Regions from separate parts of the Homo sapiens genome. Here region 1 is linked to region 2. Evidence: fine-mapped expression QTL. Tissue or cell type: whole blood. Region 2 holds a variant in brackets; the other region holds the start of a gene. All regions are shown on one strand. Distances are between the middles of the regions.

Region 1 (5,383 bases), 27 kb after region 2:
TCAATCTACACTGACATCTCCAGCACATACCTCTCTTCTAAGCTCCAGATCCTCATCCCCAAGTGCCTTATTGGTGCCTCTTCTTTGATGCCATGTTCACACTGGAACTCGGGCCATTCTTCCCATCCTCCACCCTCCCAAATATGGTCCTCTTCCGGGGCTTCCCAAAACAATGAGTGCCAGCACTACAATGGCTCATCCCAGAGACCCAGGAGACATTCATGATTCCTACCTCTTCCTCACCCTCCATATCCATTTCACCACTGATTTTACATCAATTTTATTCCAAAATCTTTCTCAAATTTGACTTTCTTTTTTTTTTCCATCCCCATTGCCACTACCATAGTCCATGAATGGTTTTCAAAGGGAGGTTCATGTACCCCATAGTATGGGAAGGCAATCCATTGGGATACTGGGAGAAAATATTAGAACTTCTACATTTCTTTCTTTTTTTTTTTTTTTTTTGAGATGGAGTCTCGCTCTGTCACCCAGGCTGGAGTGCAGTGGCGCAATCTCGGCTCACTGCAAGCTCTGCCTCCCGGGTTCACACAGTTCTCCTGCCTCAGCCTCCAGAGTAGCTGGGAATACAGGCGTCCACCACCACGCCCGGCTAATTTTTTGTTGTATTTTTAGTAGAGACGGGGTTTCACCATGTTAGCCAGGATGGTCTCGATCTCCTGACCTCATGATCCGCCCACCTCGGCCTCCCAAAGTGTTGGGATTACAGGCGTGAACCACTGCACCCGGCCTCTTTTTTTTTTTTTTTTGAGATAGATTCTCGCTTCATCGCCAAGGCTGGAATACAGTGGCGTAATCTCAGCTCACTGCAACCTCTGCCTCCCAGGTTCAAGTTGTTCTCCTGCTTCGGCCTTCCAAGTAGCTGGGATTATAGGCCTCCACCACCACGCCTGGCTAACTTTTTGTATTTTTAGTACAGATGGGATTTCACCATGTTAGCCAGGATGGTCTCGATCTCCTGACCTCATGATCCGCCCACCTCGGCCTCCCAAAGTGTTGGGATTACAGGCGTGAACCACTGCACCCGGCCTCTTTTTTTTTTTTTTTTGAGATAGATTCTCGCTTCATCGCCAAGGCTGGAATACAGTGGCGTAATCTCAGCTCACTGCAACCTCTGCCTCCCAGGTTCAAGTTGTTCTCCTGCTTCGACCTTCCAAGTAGCTGGGATTATAGGCCTCCACCACCACGCCTGGCTAACTTTTTGTATTTTTAGTACAGATGGGATTTCACCATGTTGGCCAGGCTGGTCTGGAGCTCCTGACCTCAGGTGATCCTCCTGCCTCAGCCTCCCATAGTGCTGGGATTACAGGCATGAGCCACCATGCCTGGCCCGTCTCTATGTTTTTGACTACTCTAGGTACCTTATGTAAGTGGAATCATAGGATATTTGTCTTTGTGACTGGTTTCTTTTGGCATAATATCTTCAAAGCTCATCTATTTGCATCGTAGCTGGGATTATAGGCATGCGCCACCACGCCTGGCTGATTTTGTATTTTTAGTAGAGACGGGGTTTCATCATGTTGGTCAGGCTGGTCTCGAACTCCTGACCTCAGGTGATCCACGCGCCTTGGCCTCCCAAAGTGCTGGGATTACAGGCGTAAGCCACGGCGCCCGGCCTCCTTCAACGCTGAGTAATATTCTATTGTTATGTTTATACCACATTTTGTGAACCCATTCACCCGTGGATGGACATTGGGTTGCTTCCACCTTCTGACTAATATGAACATGGGTGTACACATTTATATCCACTCTTGCCTCCCCTCCGTAGTCCTTCCTTCTCCACACTGCATCTAGAGTAACCCCTTTACACTCTCAAGTATGGACAAATCACCTCTTGCTTAAAACTCATTAGTTTTGCAACACTGTCAAGTAAGACCTAACTTCTCACCACTCTGATTTATTATTGGAACACAAAACTGGGCCATGCTCCGTGGCTCAAGCACTTTGGGAGGCCGAGGTGGGCGGAACACCTGAGGTCAGGAGTTTGAGACCAGCGTGGCCAACATGGGGAAATCCCGTCTCTACTAATAACACAAAAATTAGCCGGGCGTGGTGGCGCACGCTTGTAATCGCAGCTATCCGGGAGGCTGAGGCAGGAGAATCACTTGAACCCGGGAGGTGGAGGTTGCAGCGAGCCAAGATCACGTCACTGCACTCCAGCCTGGGCGATAGAGCAAGACTCCGTCTCAAACAAACAAAACCCACAGAACTGGAAGACCCTTGCTGCTGCTTCTGCGTAATGTGTTCTCCTCCCTTCTCGTTTTTTTTTTTTTTTTTCTCCCTTCTACCCCTTAGGACCTCAGCTCCTGCTCTTTCCCTGGGGGAATTCCGGATCACTCTCCTTTACTAGGTCAGGGTACTCTCTCCCTCCCTCTTACTCTTTCCCCTCCTACCACTTGTCACCATTGGTACTATATTATCACCCGGATATGTGACAATGGTATTGTGTATTTACCACTAAGGAATAAACTTATGAGGGAGAGAGCACTACCCGTTCCTGCAGTGCCCGTCGGGGCCTGGCATCTAGGAAACACTCCATACGCCAGTAATCGATTTCAGTCAATTTCAGTAATAAATCCAGGAGGACGCAGCCCGACCCCTCCCGCCCGGGGGCCAAGCCATGGTGGGGGATCTGGGTGGACCTCCGGCTCTGGCCGCCAGTCCTCAACCTCCGCCCCGGCCGTCCCGCTTGGGGGCCCAGGGTCCCAGGAGAGGAGGCTCCGGGGCGCCCCCTCCCCTCTAATGCGAGAGGAGAGTCCGCTCTAGGCGCGGGATCCGCAACCTCCCCGCGTCCGCCCGAGGCGGGGGCGGGGCCGGACCGGAGACGTAACTTCCGGTGTACACAGCCGGTCCAAGGCGGTGCGCTGGGGGCCGGGGCGCGTCGCAGGTGAGGAGCGGGCGCGGCGGGCGCAGGCGGGGGCTGGCGGGCGGGGTCGGGCGGTGGGCGGTGGGCAGCGGGGCCGCGGGCCGCAGCCAGGGCAGACGGCGAGACGGGCCCGCGGGGCGCCGCTCCGCTCGGGGCCGCAGGGCGCGGGGCCGTGGGCTCCCGCCCCTTGCCCGCCCGCTGTGGAGGACGCCGGGCTTTGCGGGCGCTGGCCGGCCGACGGAAGCCCGGAGGGGCCTCCTGGCGCGAACCCGGGACCTGGGGGCGCGTCGGAGACTCGGCGGCCGCGGCACCGCAGGGGCGGGTCGGCGCCCGTCAGGCGGGGAAAGGGGACGCTCCCTCGGTTCGCCGGGGCCCGGGAGGTCGCGCTGGCGCCAGGACCCGCTCCCGGAAGCCCGCGGAGGGAGGGCGGCCTGCTGGCGGCAGGGGTCCGCTGGGGCTAGCCGGGGAGGCGGCCCTCACGCCATCCCGGGGCTGCCGGGCGGGCTGCGCGCACCTTCCCGGCGGCGCCAGGCTGCCGAGGAACGCGCTTTTCCGGCCCTGCGGAGCCAGCTGGCGCATTGGGCCCGAGGGGAGGGTCCGCGGGGACCGGGAGGGCCGGGGCTGAGCGTGGAGGACCCGAGCCCGAGGGACGAGCGCAGAGTCAGGGGTGTGTCTTTCTGCGCCGCGCGGTGCGAGGAAAGAAGCGTGCCTGGTTGGCATGATAAGAATTTTGTTTAGACTTTTTAGAAATTTTCCAGAGACTCAGCTTTGGGGGCCTCCAGTTTGAAAATACCTTGTTCTGGTCCCTCATCCCCATTATAAAAGCAGTTAATTCTCCTTTCCTGGCAAAACACTCAAGACGACACAAAAAGTCTTAAGGTAGAAAATGACAGTCATCTGCCAGTCTACCATTCAGTGACAACCACTGCTAACATTTTGGTGATAATCAATAAATACAGATAGGTATTGTTATTTTTATGGACTTTACAGTATGTGATTTAACCACCGATGAGCATTGAGATAGTTTCCAATTTGTCACAAGATAAACAATTCTGCCGGAAGGATTTGTTTGATATGGTCTTTTTTTTTTTTTTTTAATAAGAGACTGTTGCCCAGGCTGGTCTCAAAACTTCTGGCCTCAAGCGACCCTCACGCCTTCGCCTTCCAAAGTGTTGGGATTACAAGTGTGAGATATTACACCTGGTCTGATTGTTATCTTAGAATAAATTTACAAATGGGGTCAAAGGTAACTTTATTTGTTTTTTTTTGAGACAGTCTCCCTCTGTCACCCAGGCTGGAGTGCAGTGGCGGGATCTAGATTAACTGCAACCTTAGCCTCCCGGGTTCGAGCGATTCTCCTGCTTTAGTCTCCCGAGTAGCTGAGATTACAGGCACCCACCACGCCCGGCTAATTTTTGTATTTTTAGTAGAGACAGGGTTTCGCCCAGTTGACCAGGTTGGTCTCGAACTCCTGACCTCAGGTGATCCGCCTGGCTCGGCGTTCCAAAGTGCTGGGATTATAGGCGTGAGCCACCGTGTCCGGCCGTAACGTTCAATTTTTAAGAATACATAGTATTTGTTTTCCTTTGACATATTTGGACAATTTTTCTGTCTCTTTGTCATAAAAAAAAATTCCAGCCTGGCGCGATGGCTCATGCCTGTAATCCCAGCACTTTGGGAGGCCGAGGCGGGCGGATCACTTGAGGTCAGGAGTTCTAGACCAGCCTGGCCAACGTGGTGAAACCCGGATTCAACTAAAAAAATACAAAAAAACACATTAGCCAAGCATGGTGGCGCGCTCCTGTAGTCCCAGCTACTTGGGAGGCTGAGGCAGGAGAATCGCTTGAGCCCAGGAGGCGAAGGTTGCAGTGAGCCGAGGTCGTGCCACTGCGCTCCAGCCTGGGCAACAGAGTGAGACTCCATCTCAAAAAAAAAAAAAAAGAAATTCATGTTTGCGTCTCATCGTTTCATGGTTTTATTTTTTTGCCTTTAGTCTACCTAAAATTCATTCTTGGTTTAAAATATGAAATATTTTGTAAATGGCTAGTCAGTTCCAGATTTATTGAATAATATGTAAGCTTTATCATTTTATCATATTTTAGACTAAAAGTTCTAAGTGTATGTTTGTAAGGGCTACTTACAAAGTTCATATTTACATTTTGTGTGTGCTTAGATGTTTTCAAGTGTCTTTAAAAATCACAGTATTTTCTTTTCACAGTATCTTCACAATATTTTGTTTTAAAAAGAAATCATTTTCCAATACAAGTACAGGGAATATTTCATGTTTGAGATTTTTTTTTTCTTTTTAAAGCAAAAAGTTTAGTTTATTGCCGTTTCATTTGCTTTCTTGCTGACAAGATAACAAACTCCATATGAAGAGTTCAGGTTTGTTGTGGCAACTTTTCAGTGTGGCATTTGAGATTCTAATCTTCCTCTATTTTTGCACACAAATACGTAGGTTGGCATTGGAGACCAAGATAGAAAAGTTCTCAGATTCCC
Region 2 (5,383 bases):
TTTTGTTCTGCATCACCAGCTAGATGAGAACCTCTTGGCTTTAGTGAATATGTATTCTACTTTTCTTTCCATGACAACACTCAGCTCAACATGGAGCCATAGTGGGCTTGAAGTAATTGCTTGTCATGTTGATTAGGAATTTGCCACTCCAGCCTTCAGTGAGACCAAAGGTCTGTCAATGTAGCTAGCCTTTGATTGTTCATTCCAGAGTTGAATAATCCTTTCATCTGCCACTAGAGCCCCGAACCCAGCAGCCCTACACCTCCTAAATCATAAAATCATTTCACCTGGCACCTTTAAAGGTAGAAAATGGTGAGTGATCACTGTCACATAAAGGAGATTTACCACTGAAGATTAAACTTGTATCTGAAACATCTAACACTTCCTCCCAGAGATGGACATGGATGACATTTCTGCAGCCTTCATGAAATGAGTTGGCTTTATTTTTTGTGCTATATTAGCATGAGTCATTGTGGTTTGGGGGTAAGCATAAATGAGCTTGGTTGTTTAATGAAAACATGGGTAAAGATAAAATCATAAAGTTTTAGAATCCTTAAAAGAATCAGCCAAACTAGAATCTCTACGCTACCACACTCACATTAGATGATAAGGAAACTAAGGACCCCAAGAAGTTAATTGTCATGATTGAGGTACAAGCTAACAAATCCAAAACTCACTCTCTTGACTTGTGGCCTGATTTTCCTTAAGGGTAATATTGTAAATATAGGCCAGTGCAATGGTGTACACATGTAATACCAGCATTTTGGGAGGCCAGGGCAGGATTGCTTAAGCCCAGGAATTCAAGGACAGCATGGGCAACATAAGGAGTCCCTATCTCTATAAAAAAGTTTAAAAATTAGCTGGAGTGGTGGCACATGCCTGTAGTCCCAGCTACTCAGGAGGCTAAGGCAGGAGGATCAGTTGAACCTGGGAGGTCAAGGCTGCAGTGAGCCATGATCGCACCACTGCACTCCAGCCTGGGTGACAGAGCGAGGCCTGTCTCAAAAAAAAAAAAGAAAAGAAAGAAATATAACCTTATGGTAAGTTTGGTTGTATGGTGTTTTCCCCCTCCCACCGCCCATTCTTTTTTGAGGTGAGAATGGAAATCAGGACTAGCAATAATAATGTAACCAGCTCCTGTTTTATATGCTGCTGTCAGGGAGGTTAAGCCACCATGGTGGGTGATAAAAATCACATCTGTGTTTCCTCAGATGGGGTTCAAAGACAACAAGGTGTCTGAATGACTCAGCATAATGCTCTCTCTCCTCTCCCCCTTTCATTTTCTCCTTTCTCCCTCTCCTGTCCCCATCTCTTTCTCTTTTTTTTTTTTTTTTTTTTTTTACCTTTCAGAAAACCACAGCTTTTGGACCCTAAAAGGTCTGGATTGATCGTACTGCTTTCTGAAAGGTAAAAAAAACAAATACTTTGGGAGGTGTGAAGGTTGGCTTTGTGGGGGACAGCAGGTTCATCTTGTAGCTCATTGCTGTCAACTTATGCCATACCATATGTATTTCAGTTTAATAACGGGGTGCAAATGTTTTGGTGTTGTATACACAGATGAAGTTAAGTCTCACCTAGGAAATGTCTGTTTCTAACAGTTGGGGTGAGAATCAGCAGTAAAAACCAGGTATATGGTAGCAGCTGGTCTAGAGGAAAATAAAAGCCCTTGGCTCCAGCCCTTTGTACAGGCCTTTAGTTTAGGGTCAGTCTCTCTGGAAATCTTGAGATTTTTATTGCTTCCTCACTGGTTACTTTTTAAAAATTCCCCAGTCAGCTTTCTACTTTTCAGAGCTTATTTCAGATTTAAGAGTTATCCTTGTAAAATTGATTTTTAAACCATTGCTTCCTCCTGGCATGAAATTTTGGAGAGAAATGTTATACTGACTGGGTATTTTATTGCTTAGTAAAGACATCAAAGACTTGGGGATTTTATGAAACTTGTTTCAAAGTATGTTGACAGTTGTATTTGATGAGTTTGACTATTGAGTTGAGGGTTTAAGTCCTATCACTGCTTTTAAAAAATTATTAGGGAGAACAACCAAAGATGAGGAAGTATGCCTGTATTTTGGGGTGGGGTTCACCACTGCATTAACCTCTACTGACTGGAAGATGCAGTCAACAATGAGGTACTACTGAGTATGGAAGTTATAGAAGGAGTTTCGTGGAAATGAGTGAGACAGGTTTTTCTATGAAAGTAAAAGTGGGGGAGTATATTTAAAGATAATTTAAAATAAACTTGAGCAAAGTAAAAAGAAAATAATACACCAATAATTTGGAACATGAGCTAA[A/T]TTTTTTTTTCTTTTTTAGAAAGACAACAAAGTTGCTGCATAGTCTACAAACAAGTCTCTGAAAATAGGTGAATTTCTAGCTCTTCATGGTCCTGAACATTGATTTCAGTCTTTGCAAAGAATGAAGAAGTGAATTCGCTGTACATTTGTCACCAGCACTGGGTTTTTGTTTTTTGTTTGTTTTTCCGCTTAATTTCAAAGATAAAATGCAGTTACTTTTGGGGGTGGAAGGCTCATCTTAAAACATGAGCATTAAATATATTTGGAATAGCAGAAGGTTAAGTAATTTCTTATGTATAGTTAAACTAAAGCAGTACTTCAGTGGGACTTAACAAGTATTTTTTCATCACTGAAAGGTTTTTTTTTTTTATCACTAAATTGTATTTGGCAATTGCAAGTTGCCTGCAGATAGGGCCGTGATACTGTGTTTTGAGCCACAGAAGGTTGTGTGTGTGTGTGTGTGTGTGTGTGTGTGTGTGTGTGTATGTGTGTGTCTTTTTCCTCCTTTCTTTTGGGGAATCCTGTAATATGAGGTAGCTTATTTCGTCAATTAATTAGGGTGCTGGATGGTAGAGAATTTTGTCAGTCAACTATGTACACACAGTAAATACTGTTTCTTAGGCAAAGGTAACTTTTTTATATAGTTGTAAAATTCCATTATATTCCATTGCCAAAGAAACATTAAGAACTTTGTATAGCTGTATAAAAAGCAACTAATTTTTTAAAGAATAAACATTTTAAAGTCAGCAAACATACTGTGTCCTTGCAGAAGTTGATGTGCTGAGCAGCAGCCTTATGGGTGGGTCTTTTTTTCTTAGTTTTCCAGGCTTAACATTTTTGATTTTGTTTTTTAATGTTTGGAACATAAATGAAGATTTGATACATTATTTCATTATCTAAAAAGGATTAATTATTCATGCTCATTGTAAGAACTTCATTTTGTAGCAAATGGCATATCACAGGATCTGTCCAGATAATCGATATTTTCAGTATACAAATGTAAATAATCACAGATGAGAATGTACTTAGCTGTATTTTCAAATAAGTAATCTTCCCCCCTTTTGTAGGACTTTAAAACTAGGCATCAATGAACCTGTTTTTCCTATTATGCCTGGAATTTAGTCATGATACCTTGACTCATTCCATCATATTTCAAGAGGATTCAGAGTGCTAGAAATTATTTTGGTAGCCTGTAACACACGGCAACACTGGTCCTTGGGCCTATGATGACCCACAGATGACTCAGTATAGAGTTCATTGCTAATTATAAATTACTAGTGAATCTTTTTGATATTTTAAGCTCTAGTGGGAAAAATCTGGCCACTTTTGTGTTTTTATGAAGGCCATGGAATAAAAGGATCCAAAGATTTAAATATTTTTATCTAATATTTTGATTGTTTTCTTAACTTTCTCCTTAAAACATTCAGTAGTGATAAAGATATAGAAACTGCACTGTAGGAGAATTGGAATATTTAAGGCTGGTTGACATTTTTTATTTTCATTTTATATCTTTTGTATAGCTCTACAAGGCAGTGTTTTGTAATTTGGTTTCATTATGAAGATCCAGTACTTGGCAGCCATAGTTTAGACAATATTGTTCAGTGCTGTTTGCTTGCATGTTAACAACAAAACCTTTTAGAGGACCCACAAATCATGATATTGAACACAGTTCCGAGGCATTCAGAGCATCAGAGCAAGTACCATGGCAATACATGTGTAGACTGTTGGAGATGTCCCGGGCCAATTTCAAGAAAGAAAACTGTAAATACTAGTTCTACTTGCTCTGAAATTATGAGTTTATGCGTTTTCCCAGCCCTCCGAATCACTGACTGGGGCGTTTTGTGCCCCAGCAATAACTGGCAGCATGGCATACCTGCAGTACCCCTTACAATATTAAAGCAAAGTTTTTATTCTAAAACAGAATAAAACTGTTCAATAAAAAATGCTCGTCAAAGTTCTTTCTCTTTAAATAGTAACATTCTGTTTCAGTAGGAACATAATGAAAGGAATCTTTTAAATGGAAGAGCGGAATTATAATGTTTGTATTCCCTGTAATAACTATAAATCAGTTACTTTATTTCTAAGATTGAGTTATTGTTGCAGATGTTTAGGGAAAGCTAAAAGCCCCTTCCTTCCCCTCCTGTGTGTAAATAAAATACTTCTGAGATCAGATCCGTGACATGAGGAGATTGAGCCACCCAGGCACAGGCCAGGCTGGAAACAGCAGCCAGAACACACTCCCTGTGGGCAGACGCATGAAGAAGATGCAGAATCTGTCTATTAAAACAGTTCGCTCCAAAAGCTGGGCTTCATGTGATGGTAGGGCAAGAGGTCGGGAACAGCAGTGCAGCACAGTGGCTCTCGGTGGGGTTACCTGACATCCTAGGAACACAGTCATCTGTTGCTTAATAATAGCGACATGTTCTTATTTTTAAATAGCAATGAGGTCTCACTTCGTTGCCCAGGCTGGTCTCTAACTCCTGGGCTCAAATGATCCTCCCATCTTGGCCTCCCAAAGTGCTAGATTACAGACATGAGCCACCAGGCCCGGCCATGACACATTCTGAGAAATGTGTTAAGCAATGTCATCATTGTGTGAACATCAGAGAGTGTACTACACAAATGAAGATGGTATGGCCTACTCCACACCTAAGCTATATGGTGTAGCCTGTTGCTCCTCGCTACAAACCTGTACAGCATGTTACTGTACTGAATACTGTAGGCAGTCATAACACAGTGGTATTTCTGTATTTAAAACATATCTAAACAGAAAAAGTATAGTAAAAATACGGTATCATAATCTTTGGGACCACCATTGTATACCCAGTCCATCGTTGACCAAAACATCATTAAGTGGTGCGTGAGTACTGAGGAATGTGAGGGGATGTGTTTTGGTTGTCACAATCACTGGGGATCACCACTGGTATTTAAAAGTAAGGGCCCGGATGGTAAATGTCCTGTGCTGTGCCACACAATCAGTTGTCCAACCCAAAGTGCAGTAGTGCTCCTCTACTCTGAGAAACACTGGCTAAAGTCCCTCCACATGGAAAGACAGTAAGTGGGAAATTATTTCCTGCCAACTTGAAAAAAAAAAT

Evidence for each region. PIP is the estimated chance that this variant, and not a neighbour inherited with it, causes the effect. A credible set is the group of variants that fine-mapping cannot tell apart.
Region 1: it holds the start of GARRE1, and the variant in region 2 is the best candidate, but not a certain one, in a credible set for the expression of GARRE1 in whole blood (TOPMed, PIP 0.62).

Annotation. Positions count from the first base shown.
Region 1 is chr19:34,251,710-34,257,092 of GRCh38, forward strand. GARRE1 (granule associated Rac and RHOG effector 1) reads left to right here and starts at 2,845. Exons shown (of 14, transcript NM_014686.5): 1 at 2,845-2,905. RefSeq lists an enhancer at 3,142-3,663.
Region 2 is chr19:34,225,058-34,230,440 of GRCh38, forward strand. LSM14A (LSM14A mRNA processing body assembly factor) reads left to right here. Exons shown (of 10, transcript NM_015578.4): 10 at 2,308-4,231. The coding sequence ends at 2,331. Among named protein-coding and RNA genes, the nearest start is that of GARRE1, 27 kb to the right of the region's middle. RefSeq lists an enhancer at 1-282. The variant A/T (reference allele first, on the strand shown) is at 2,289.